Regions from separate parts of the Homo sapiens genome. Here region 2 is linked to region 1. The links come from fine-mapping of genetic effects on gene expression. A gene starts in region 1. The other region holds a variant in brackets. All regions are shown on one strand. Distances are from middle to middle.

Region 1 (5,383 bases):
TTTTTTTTAAGTTGTTTTTTTTTTGTTTGTTTTTGCGGGTTGTCTCTCAGTGGATTTACAATAATTCAATGGTTTAAAGTTATAGTTGATCCTTGAAAAAAACAGGTTGAACTTCGAGGGTCCATCATACGTGGATTTTCTTCTGCCTCTGGCACCCCAAGACAGCAAGACCAACCCCTCTCTTTGCCTCCTTATGATTTTCTTAATAACAGTTTATTTTCTCTGGCTTACTTTATTGTAATAATATAGCATATAATACATATACAAAATGTGTGTTAATTGACTGTATGTTATCAGTAAAACTTCTGGTCAAGAGTAGGCTATTAAGTTTTTGGAGAGTCCAAAGTTATATGTGGATGTTTGATTGTGCCAAGTGGAGGGGATTGGCACTACTAACCCTAGCGTTGTTACAAGGGCTATTGTATTTAGAATGATGTGTACCTTTGAGATTATGCCACCAAGTGGACCAATTAAGAGCTACTGGTTTTTACTTGATTTTTATGGACTGCTTTTTGTAAATTTAATTTTGTTTTGTAATGATATTGTTAAAATTAAAACTTTAGAAAAATTAAATTTAGCAGAAATTAATTGAGCAATGACCAATTTGAGAATCAGGCAGCCCTCAGAACCAGAGGAGGTTCAGAAAGTATCGTTCCACAAAGAGGCCAGGCAGCACGCATAGAAAAAAAACAGAAATGAGATACAGAAACAGCTTGATTGGCTACAGGTTGGCCTTTGCCTTATTTGAACATGGGCTGATCAGTTGACCACCTGTGATGATTGGCTGAGACTCAGTTATTTGTTACAGAAGTATATTCCTAAGTTAGGCTGTGAGTTAAATTGCATACTAAGTTGGGTTGCAGTTCATTATATAAGGACTCAAAATACGGAGACATCTTTAAGCTAAATTTAATTTCACAATATGAAATATTTACTTGGTTCTAAAGTCAAATTTATGAAGTAAGATGTTTCCAGAGATGTCTAGATTCTATCCCTGTCTCCTCTATCCTATTTATTTCCTCCACCATAGGTAGCATCTTTAAAAACCTCAATTGTTTTCATTCCCATTATTTTGAAAATTTAAGAAAATATGTATATATATTGAAATTACCACCATCTTTCTCTTTTTGGGTAAAAGCATACTGTACAAATTCCTATCCATTTTTTTTCCACTTTGTAATGTATTCTGGAGATCACACCACAGATGTATATAGAGTTCTTCCTTATTACTTTTGACGATTGTATTAGCATTTCATTGCTTTGTTGTGTGAAAGTTTTTGGGAAGCCACTGTTTTGGACTAGCTTCACGCACTAGGCCCCAGCAGACCAGACCAAACCAGAATGGAGTCGTTTGTGCTAAGTACCACACAATCAAACTGAACTTTGAAATGGGCCAGTTTCCCAAAAAATAGGAAATTCCCTTAAGTCTGAGTCAGTGAAACAAGGAAGTTTCTTCTGCTTTAACCCTAAAAGTAACTTTGAAACGATGAGTCCACTTTTTGTTCGGTTTCTGCTTTCTTCAGCCCCTATTTGCCAATAAAACCAACCGCCTCTGCTCAGCTGATCAGAACACTCATTCTACTTTATAGAATGAGGTGTTTTTTGATTCTAGAATCACGAATAAGAGTCAATTAAGATTTTTAAACTAATTCGTTGTAATGCTGTCTTTTGACTGTTGTACTACAATTTATTCAAGCAGTCCTTTATTTAGGAATTTGGGGGTAATTTCCAATATTTTGGTATTATGAATCGTGCTGAATAGTCGTGCATGCTCTTTCATATTTTCACCACACGTATTTTTGGGTGAAAGCATGAATTCATCTATGCAATTTTGCTAGATATTAAGCTACTCTTTTCACTATTCCTGTACAGATGGAGGGACAGATGAGACAGCTGCCCAGGGCACTTCAGCAGTTACTGGCATAGCTGGGATTTGAACTGGGATGTAACTATTTTCATACACTCTCTAGGTCATTCCAAGGTGGGAGAGGCAAGCAAATAATTTTGAATCTGGCCAGCATATTCACTGAAACATTTATGCTTATCCTTCCTCCTCCCAGCATACAAGTTCTTCCTTAGCAAAACCTCCAGTCCTCTAATTTAGCATACTTTCGTCTAATCTGTCACTTTCCTCAGGCCCCACAACTACGAGTACTCCTTGTCCCCACCCGGTCCTAATTTGGTCGGGTATAGCGGAGGTGGGCGTAGAGAGAACTGGAGGTGGAGACCTTTGTGCATGCCCACACACTGCTTTCCTCGCGAGGAATCTGGGGCCCTTGCAGAGGCGGAACCAGGATGTGACGTAATAACCGCGCGCGGCGCTCGGCGTTCCCGCAAGGTCGCTTTGCAGAGCGGGAGCGCGCTTAAGTAACTAGTCCGTAGTTCGAGGGTGCGCCGTGTCCTTTTGCGTTGGTACCAGCGGCGACATGACGGGGTACACTCCGGATGAGAAACTGCGGCTGCAGCAGCTGCGAGAGCTGAGAAGGCGATGGCTGAAGGACCAGGAGCTGAGCCCTCGGGAGCCGGTGCTGCCCCCACAGAAGATGGGGCCTATGGAGAAATTCTGGAATAAATTTTTGGAGAATAAATCCCCTTGGAGGAAAATGGTGAGTGACAGACCTCTCCGGTCCCCCCCAACACATCCCACTGCTGCCGGCAGCCTGAACACTGAACGTCCGCTCCCTGCAGCCACACCAAGGACTGATAACGCTCAGTGCTCTGGGACACTGGCCAGTCCCGAGAGTCCTCCTGGAGTCTCGGGAGGCAGGAGTCCAGGAATATGTATGGCTTTGAGAGAATCATGCCTTTTACTGTCAAGTACAGTGGACGGGGGCGAATTTTAATACTTAGGTTTTCCAGGACGCTGCACGTTTGGTTCTCTTTTGACTGTAGAAATCTTCCCTCAGAATAATAACCAAGGACTCGCTAGAATTAAAATTCTGTGATTTAAGTATTTGAGGACACTTGTCTGACTTTTAAGTGTGAGGTTCTAGAGACCAAGTAACACAGTATCCAACCACCAGAGGGCACAGCCAGCCCCTAGCTGATAGTACAGCCCCATGTGATCCCCGTAAAAGACAGGGTCCTGTTGGTATGCCTTGTGAGTCACATTCAAGAGCTACCTTTCTAAACTACCGTTCTGTACTTTTAACACAGTGTTTCATTAAAAAAATCGCATTTTGGGCTTTGAAGAAAATCACTCATTCAAGAACTTTATTTTCAAGGCCTCTGGGTATTTTCTTGAGGACTGTTATGGATGATAAACATCTCAGAATTGCTTTCAGTTACCTGCAACACTTACTGATGACAGGATAATAGTAGTAACAATACTACGTAACACACGGGTGCTTGCTGTGTGCTTGGCACTCTACTGGGGGTTTTACATGTGTTACTTCATTTCTTTATTCCTGTAAGGTAGATATTCCTAATCCTCATTTTAAATGTGAAGAAACTGAGGCCTACAAAGCTTCAGTGATTTGCTGGTGGTCAGGGAGCTAGGAATTGAATATGAGTTCATATTGTAATCAACATGTATCTGATTCTTACTGTGCTACAAAGTCTAGTGCAATAGAATTGTTGAAAATTTTTCTGAGAAAGTGATATTGGATACTTATTTATGGTGGTAAAATTCAACTCTTCTCCCACCCTTTGTATCCCTGACATTATCGGAATATTGGCAGTCACTGATTTAAAGTTGACATCCCATCCATCAGCAAGTGATATAAGGAAGTAAATAAATAATAATGTGTCGAAGTTCACCTTACCTTACTTTAATTTATTCTTTTATAATCATATCTGTTATAATTCTTAGATTCTGGATTGTCCCTTCCTTGAATGGATAGGTGTTTTTTAATCAAGTTGGAAGACATGGGAAAGTTCCATTTTTAGTTCTTTTTTAAAATAGTGTTGCAGAGGGCATTTTGGAGTGAGTTTGGGACACCCCATCTTAGTATGTAAAACGTCCTTTTTCCAGCATTGGCGTTGTCAAGGTTGTCTGCCTTATACCTAAAATGATGTGAGTGTCATTGATCAATAAATAAGGGAGATGACTATACCTGAAAAATTCTGTAGGTTTGATTACTCTGGTTAAATACATTAAAATTATTCTTTCATTATTTTGCTATATTTTATCTTTAACAAACTTATAATAAGGATATTTTTGGAAGTCTTTAAAAAATCTATAAATGCCTTGTTATAGTCTTGCAAAATACTGCTTAAGCATTTTGGTCTGGACTTTGTAGGTATCTTCTAGCAGACTCTGCATTTACTAAGAATATTTGAGTAGATGAGGTTACCTACAGACTATAAGAAAATATGTGCCATTTAGAGTTTTGTAAAATAGTCATGGCATTGTTACATCATTGATGCCTTTTGTTCTGCCATAAATATAAAAAATGGGATATGTTTATTTTGTGTATGTGTTTTTCCCCCCAGGTCCATGGGGTATACAAAAAGAGTATCTTTGTTTTCACTCATGTACTTGTACCTGTCTGGATTATTCATTATTACATGAAGTATCATGTTTCTGTAAGTATGTCCTTTTCAGAATTCATTTTTAATATTGTCCAAAATTACTTTCTTTGTGGCTATCTTACCCTACTTAGTGGAAATAATCTGCCACTTATAAACAGATTTTGAAGTACTTTGAATTCTCTTAGGTAAAAGGTTTAATGAAAGTTACATAATTGGGTATAGTTTTTAAAAAATATTGTCACTAGTTTACAACTTGAAATGGATTTCCTCATAGAAATTAGTATTTAAGTGATAAGAATGTAGTGACCTAATAATACTAGGGTAAATTTGGAGTCATGAATAGGAAGGGAGAAAACAATTCTGCTCCTTTTTAAAAACCTGTATCTCGTATAAGGTAAAAATTCAAAATAGACAAAGCATATCTTTGTCATCACCCAATTTCTGTTCCCTTCATTTTATCTGATTCTTCACAATTTTTATTTATTTAGAACTCAGGATGTCCAGATGCCTGCACTTTTTCACTGATACAGATCTTGCATGGGCTGATGGAACTGAGCCAGTTGTGGTATTTTAAAGGCTTGGTCTGGTGCAGGGTGTTGGATCCCAGGCAGAATGAGAAGGGCATGCATTTTGGGAAGTGGCGTGGCAGAGGGAGCAGTGGTGACTGCGTAGCCTGAAGTGTTGGAGCACAAAAGAGTGAGGAGGGCATTCGTATACCAAGAGAGGGGTGTTAGATCCTCAGTGGGTTGCAGGGGAGGAGGGTGAGCACATCTGTTTGGGGAGCAACAGTGGCAACAGCCTAGTATAGGATATTGGTACCTGAGCAGAGGGAGGAGGACATCTGGAAGAAGGATGGTATGAGGCAGTGAGGCAAGTGGTAACTCAGAGCAAGATGTCAGAACCTGAATGA
Region 2 (5,383 bases), 64 kb after region 1:
GCTCTTCTTGTTGCATTGATCCCTTTACTATTATATAATGCCCTTCTTTCTCTTTTTTGATCTTTGTTGGTTTAAAATCTGTTTTATCAGAGACTGGGATTGCAACCCCTGCTTTTTTTTTTTCTTTCCATTTGCTTGGTAAATCTTCCTCCATCCCTGTATTTTGAGCCTATGTGTGTCTTTACATGTGAGATGGGTCTCCTGAATACAGCACACCAATGGGTCTTGACTCTTTATCCAATTTGCCAGTCTGTGTCTTTTAATTGGGGCATTTAGCCCATTCACACTTAAGGTTAATATTGTTATGTGTGAATTTGATCCTGTCATTATGATGCTAGCTGGTTATTTTGCCTGTTAGTTGATGCAGTTTCTTCATAGTGTCGATGGTCTTTACAATTTGGTATGTTTTTGCAGTGGCTGGTACCAGTTTTCCTTTCCATATTTAGTGCTTCCTTCAGGAGCTCTTGTAAGGCAGGCCTGGTGGTGACAAAATCTCTCAGCATTTGCTTGTCTGTAAAGGATTTTATTTCTTCTTTGCTTATAAATCTTAGTTTGGCTGTATATGAAATTCTGGGTTGAAAATTCTTGTCTTTAAGAATGTTGAATATTGGCCCCCACTCTCTTCTGGCTTGTAGGGTTTCTACAGAGAGATCTGCTGTTAGTCTGATGGGCTTCCCTTTGTGAGTAACTCAACCTTTCTCTCTGGCTGCACCTAACATTTTTCCTCCATTTCAACCTTGGTGAATCTGATGATTATGTGTCTTGGGGTTGTTCTTCTCGAGGAGTATCTTTGTGGTGTTCTCTGTATTTCCTGAATTTGAATGTTGGCCTGTATTGCTAGGTTGGGGACGTTCTCCTGGATAACATCCTGACGAGAGTTTTCCAACTTGGTTCCATTCTCCCCGTCACTTTCGGGTACACCAATCAAACATAGGTTTGGTCTTTTCACATAGTCCCATATTTCTTGGAAGCTTTGTTCATTCCTTTTCATTCTTTTTTTCTCTAATCTTGTCTTCATGCTTTATTTCATTAAATTCATCTTCAATCTCTGATATCCTTTCTTCTGCTTGATTGATTCAGCTATTGATAGTTGTGTATGCTTCACAAAGTTCTCGTGCTGTGTTTTTTGGCTACATCAGGTCATTCAGGTCCTTCTCTAAACTGGTTATTCTAGTTGTCACTCCTCTAACCTTTTTTCAAGGTTTGTAGCTTCCTTGCATTGGGTTAGAACATGCTCCTTTAGCTCAGAGGAGTTTCTTATTACCCACCTTCTGAAGCCTACTTCTGTCAATTTGTCAAACTCATTCTCCGTCCAGTTTTGTTCCGTTGCTGGCAAGGAGTTGTGATCCTTTGGAGGAGAAGAGGATCACATTTTTTTTCTGCCTTTTTGCACTGGCGTTTCCTCATCTTCATGGATTTATCTGCCCTTGGTCTTTCATGTTGGTGACCTTCAGATGAGTTATCTGTGTGGATGTCCTTTTCGTTGATATTGATGATATTCCTGTTTGTTAGTTTTCCTTCTAACAGGCCCCTCAGCTGCAGGTCTGCTGGAGTTTGCTGGATGTCCACTCCAGACCCTGTTTGCCTGGGTATCACCAGTGGAGGCTGCAGAACAGCAAAGATTGCTGCCTGTTCCTTCCTTTGGAAGCTTCCTCCCAGAGGGGCACCTGCCAGATGCCAGCTGGAGCTCTCCTGTATGAGGTGTCTGTTGACCCTGGTAGGAGGTGTCTCCCCACCAGGAGGCACAGGTATCAGGGACCCACTTAAGGAGGCAGTCTGTCCGTTAGCAGAGCTCAAGCACTGTGCTGGGAGATCTGTTGCTCTCTTCAGAGCCAGCAGGCAGCAACATTTAAGTCTGCTGAAGCTGTGCCCACAGCTGCCCTTTTCCCCAGGTGCCCTCTCCCAGGGAAATGGGAGTTTTATCTGTAAGCCCCTGAGTGGGGCTGCTGGCTTTTTTTCAGAGATGCCCTGCCTAGAGTGAGGAATCTAGAGAGGCAGTCTAGCTATAGTGGCTTTGCCAAGCTGCAGTAGGGTCTACCCAGTTTGAACTTCCTGGTGGCTTTGTTTACACTGTGAGGGGAATAGGGCCTACTCAAGCCTCAGTAATTGTGGATGCCCCTCCCCCAACCAAGCTTGAGCATCCCAGGTCAACTTCAGATTGTTGTGCTGGCAGCGAGAATTTCAAGCTAGTGGATTTTAGCTTGCTGGGCTCTGTAGGGGTGGGATTTGCTGTGCTAGACCACTTGGCTCCCTGGCTTCAGCCCCCTTTCCAGGAGAGTGAATGGTTCTGTCTTGCTGGCATTCCAGGTGTCACTGAGGTATGAAAAAAAAAACTGCAGCTAGCTCAGTGTCTGCCCAAATGGCCACCCAGATTTGTGCTTGAAACCCAGATCCCTGGTGGCATAGGCACCGGAGGGAATCTCCTGGTCTGCTGGTTGCGAAGACTTG[G/C]GGGGAAAAGCATAGTATCTGGGCCAGGGTGCACTGTTCCTCATGGCACAGTCCCTCATGGCTTCCCTTGGCTAGGGGAGGGAGTTCCCAGACCCCTTGTGCTTCCCAGGTGAGGTGACACCCTACCCTGCTTCAGCTCGCTGTCTGTGGGCTGCACCCACTGTCTATCCAGTCCCAGTGAGGTGAACCGGGTACCTCTGTTGGAAATGCAGAAATCACCCGCCTTCTGTGTTGATCTCTCTGTGAGCTGCAGACCGGAGCTGTTCCTTTTTTGGCCATCTTGCCCTGGTTCCTAGTCAAGCATTTTTTAAGAGAGGATTTTCATATAGTAAAAAAAAAAAAAAAAAAATTAAGTAAATACTTTGGTTTAAAATTTTAGATTGAGTCTGTTAGGAGCTAGGGAAAATTATGATAAATAAGAGTTAAATCCCTTGCCTCAAAAGGGGGAGACTTAAAATATTACCATTTTCCACTTGCTTCTGTAGTTTTAAAAAGCTATATGAATGGTTACAGATAATGATACCATTTAAATGAGGTTTTATATGTTTTGTTGTTCTTGAGAGGAGAAAAGAAACTAGTAATTTAAGCTAACCAGAAAATATAGGAAAGGGAAATATAAACAAGATAACACAAGGAAAACTAGTTATATCAGCTATGGCCATGTAATTAGGTCAAACATCTTTTAAATAGGTGTGAATGAGTCAGAAAGCAGAATCCAGGTTTTGGTCATCTGCCAGAGACCCATGTAAAGTCTAATAACATAAAAAATAAAAATGGGGGCCAGACTTGGCAGCTCATGCCTGTAATTCCAGCACTTTGGGAACCTGAGGTGGGAGGATTGCTTGAGCCCCGAAAATTGAGCCTATGGTGAGCTATGATCATGCTACTGTACTTCTGCTTGGGCAATGGAACAAGACCCTGTCTCATAAATAATAAATAAATAAAAAAGAGATAAAGAAGGGACAAATATATATTAAATAAATGCATACGTAAAGAAAGCAAGAATTATACTTAAATTGCACTAGTGGAAAGTATTAAGATAAAATGATAAAGGTATTGAGATATCAGTGAAGATTTGGTACACATAAATCTTTGTTTATTAAATATTAGAAAACGTCAAGAAATATGGGAATTATAAGATATCTTTATTAGTACTGCTAAGTCAGATAAATGATAATAAAAGCATAAATGATCTGTTTAATAAGGTTGATTTAATGTCTATGTTTTCCATTTTGTATCATATAGCAAATATATCCTTCTCCTCCAATTCTTAAAAAGCTTTGCCAAAGTGATCCTATATGAGTTACAGATAAATATTTAATAAATTCCCAAAGCATAACTTTTATGAGTTTTATTTTCAAATTTGTAGGCTCTGTGATACTGGGCAAATGTCTTAACTCTCGTATGCCTCAGTTTCCTCATTTGTAAAATCAGAATAAAAACCATGTTTGGGTGTTTTGGAAATTAAACTGCATGGTATTAAATTACTGTTAGCTATTATTCTATATCCCAGAAATTAATCATAGGTTTAAAAAAATTTTCACAGAATTTCAAAATAGCATCCTTTTGAGTAACTTCTAGCAGAATGAGAAAATCTAAACAAGTATAGCTACTTTCAAAAGTAAGCACGGCAATCAGCCAACATATTATATATTTTAAGATGTAATAAGCTTTTAATCAGAATTTATAGCCTAAATGGATTTATTGGTATTTCAAAAGAATGAACACTTATGAATTAATTAATTTGACTGAAGTAATTGCAAAAAGAACAGCCAGTTAACTCCAAAGAAAGCAAACTGGCCAAAATAAAGAACAAAAACAAAATTCCCCCAAATTACTGGAACTAACAGAGTTCATTCAGTCTTGTTGCAATAGATACGTAAAATAAAATAAAAACGGAGGCCACGCATTTTTATCTACTGGAAAACAAGTGAGATTATACTGGAAAAACAGTATTTTCATATACTGGAAAAACAAACCAGATTATATAACATTTCCCTAAATGCATAAAAGATTCTTACAAATCCAATTTAGAAAAAAATATGAATGACCTCTCAAAACTAGCTGTGAGACATGAACAGGAAATGTATTAAGAAATAACCAAAACAAAAGACACTGGCCAAAGGTGGAAGAAATCCCACAAGAAATCATTAAAAACAGTGAAGTTTGTTTGTTTGGTCTGTTTTTGTCTCTCAGTTTTGCAAAGGTTATGAAGATTGAGCAAATTCAGTGCTATGGAGGGAAATATCATTCATACACTATCGATGGAGGGTTAGTACAGTTTGGAAGGTAGTTGGGGAAAATGTATTAACATTCATTCCTTCCTTCATTGATTCATTTATTCATTTATGGATTGATTGATTGATTGATTGAGACAGAGTCTCACTCTGTTGCCTATGCTGGAGTGCAGTGGCGCAATCTCAGCTCACTGCAATCTCCACCTCCCAGGTTTAAGTGATTTTCCTACCTCAGCCTCCTGAGTAGCTGGGATTACGGGTGCAAGCCACCACGCCTGGCTAATTTTTCTATTTTTAGAAGAGATGGGGGTTTCACCATGTTGGCCAGGATGGTCTTGAACTCCTGACCTCAAGTGATCCGCCTGCCTTGGCCTCCCAAAGTGCTGGGATTACAGGCATGAGCCACCGCGCCTGGCCTCCACATTTAAAAGCATATACTGTTAAACTGAGGAATTATACTTCTGAGAACTTATTCCAGGGAAAAGTTGGTAAAGCAGGTAAAGACATAGATGGGTGTGTACTAAACGCATTTTAGTTTCGTGTTAAAGGAATACATTAAATTATACTACATTTATGTGACATAAAACTATGCAGCCACTAAAAGTTGATGTAGGTACATATTTATTAATAGGAAACAACACCTGTAATCCACTGAGTGGAAAAGAGCAGATTTGTTAAATCTTACTTATTTAAAACTA

Evidence for each region. PIP is the estimated chance that this variant, and not a neighbour inherited with it, causes the effect. A credible set is the group of variants that fine-mapping cannot tell apart.
Region 2: its variant is the best candidate, but not a certain one, in a credible set for the expression of NDUFB6 in whole blood (TOPMed, PIP 0.82).

The regions. Positions count from the first base shown.
Region 1 is chr9:32,570,104-32,575,486 of GRCh38, reverse strand. It overlaps NDUFB6 (NADH:ubiquinone oxidoreductase subunit B6), which reads left to right and starts at 2,328. Exons shown (of 4, transcript NM_002493.5): 1 at 2,328-2,606; 2 at 4,435-4,527. The coding sequence starts at 2,427. RefSeq lists enhancers at 1,921-1,970, 2,241-2,780.
Region 2 is chr9:32,505,654-32,511,036 of GRCh38, reverse strand. The region is part of intron 1 of RIGI (RNA sensor RIG-I); the gene reads left to right. Among named protein-coding and RNA genes, the nearest start is that of RIGI, 18 kb to the left of the region's middle. RefSeq lists enhancers at 1,522-2,238, 2,239-2,957. The variant G/C (reference allele first, on the strand shown) is at 2,449.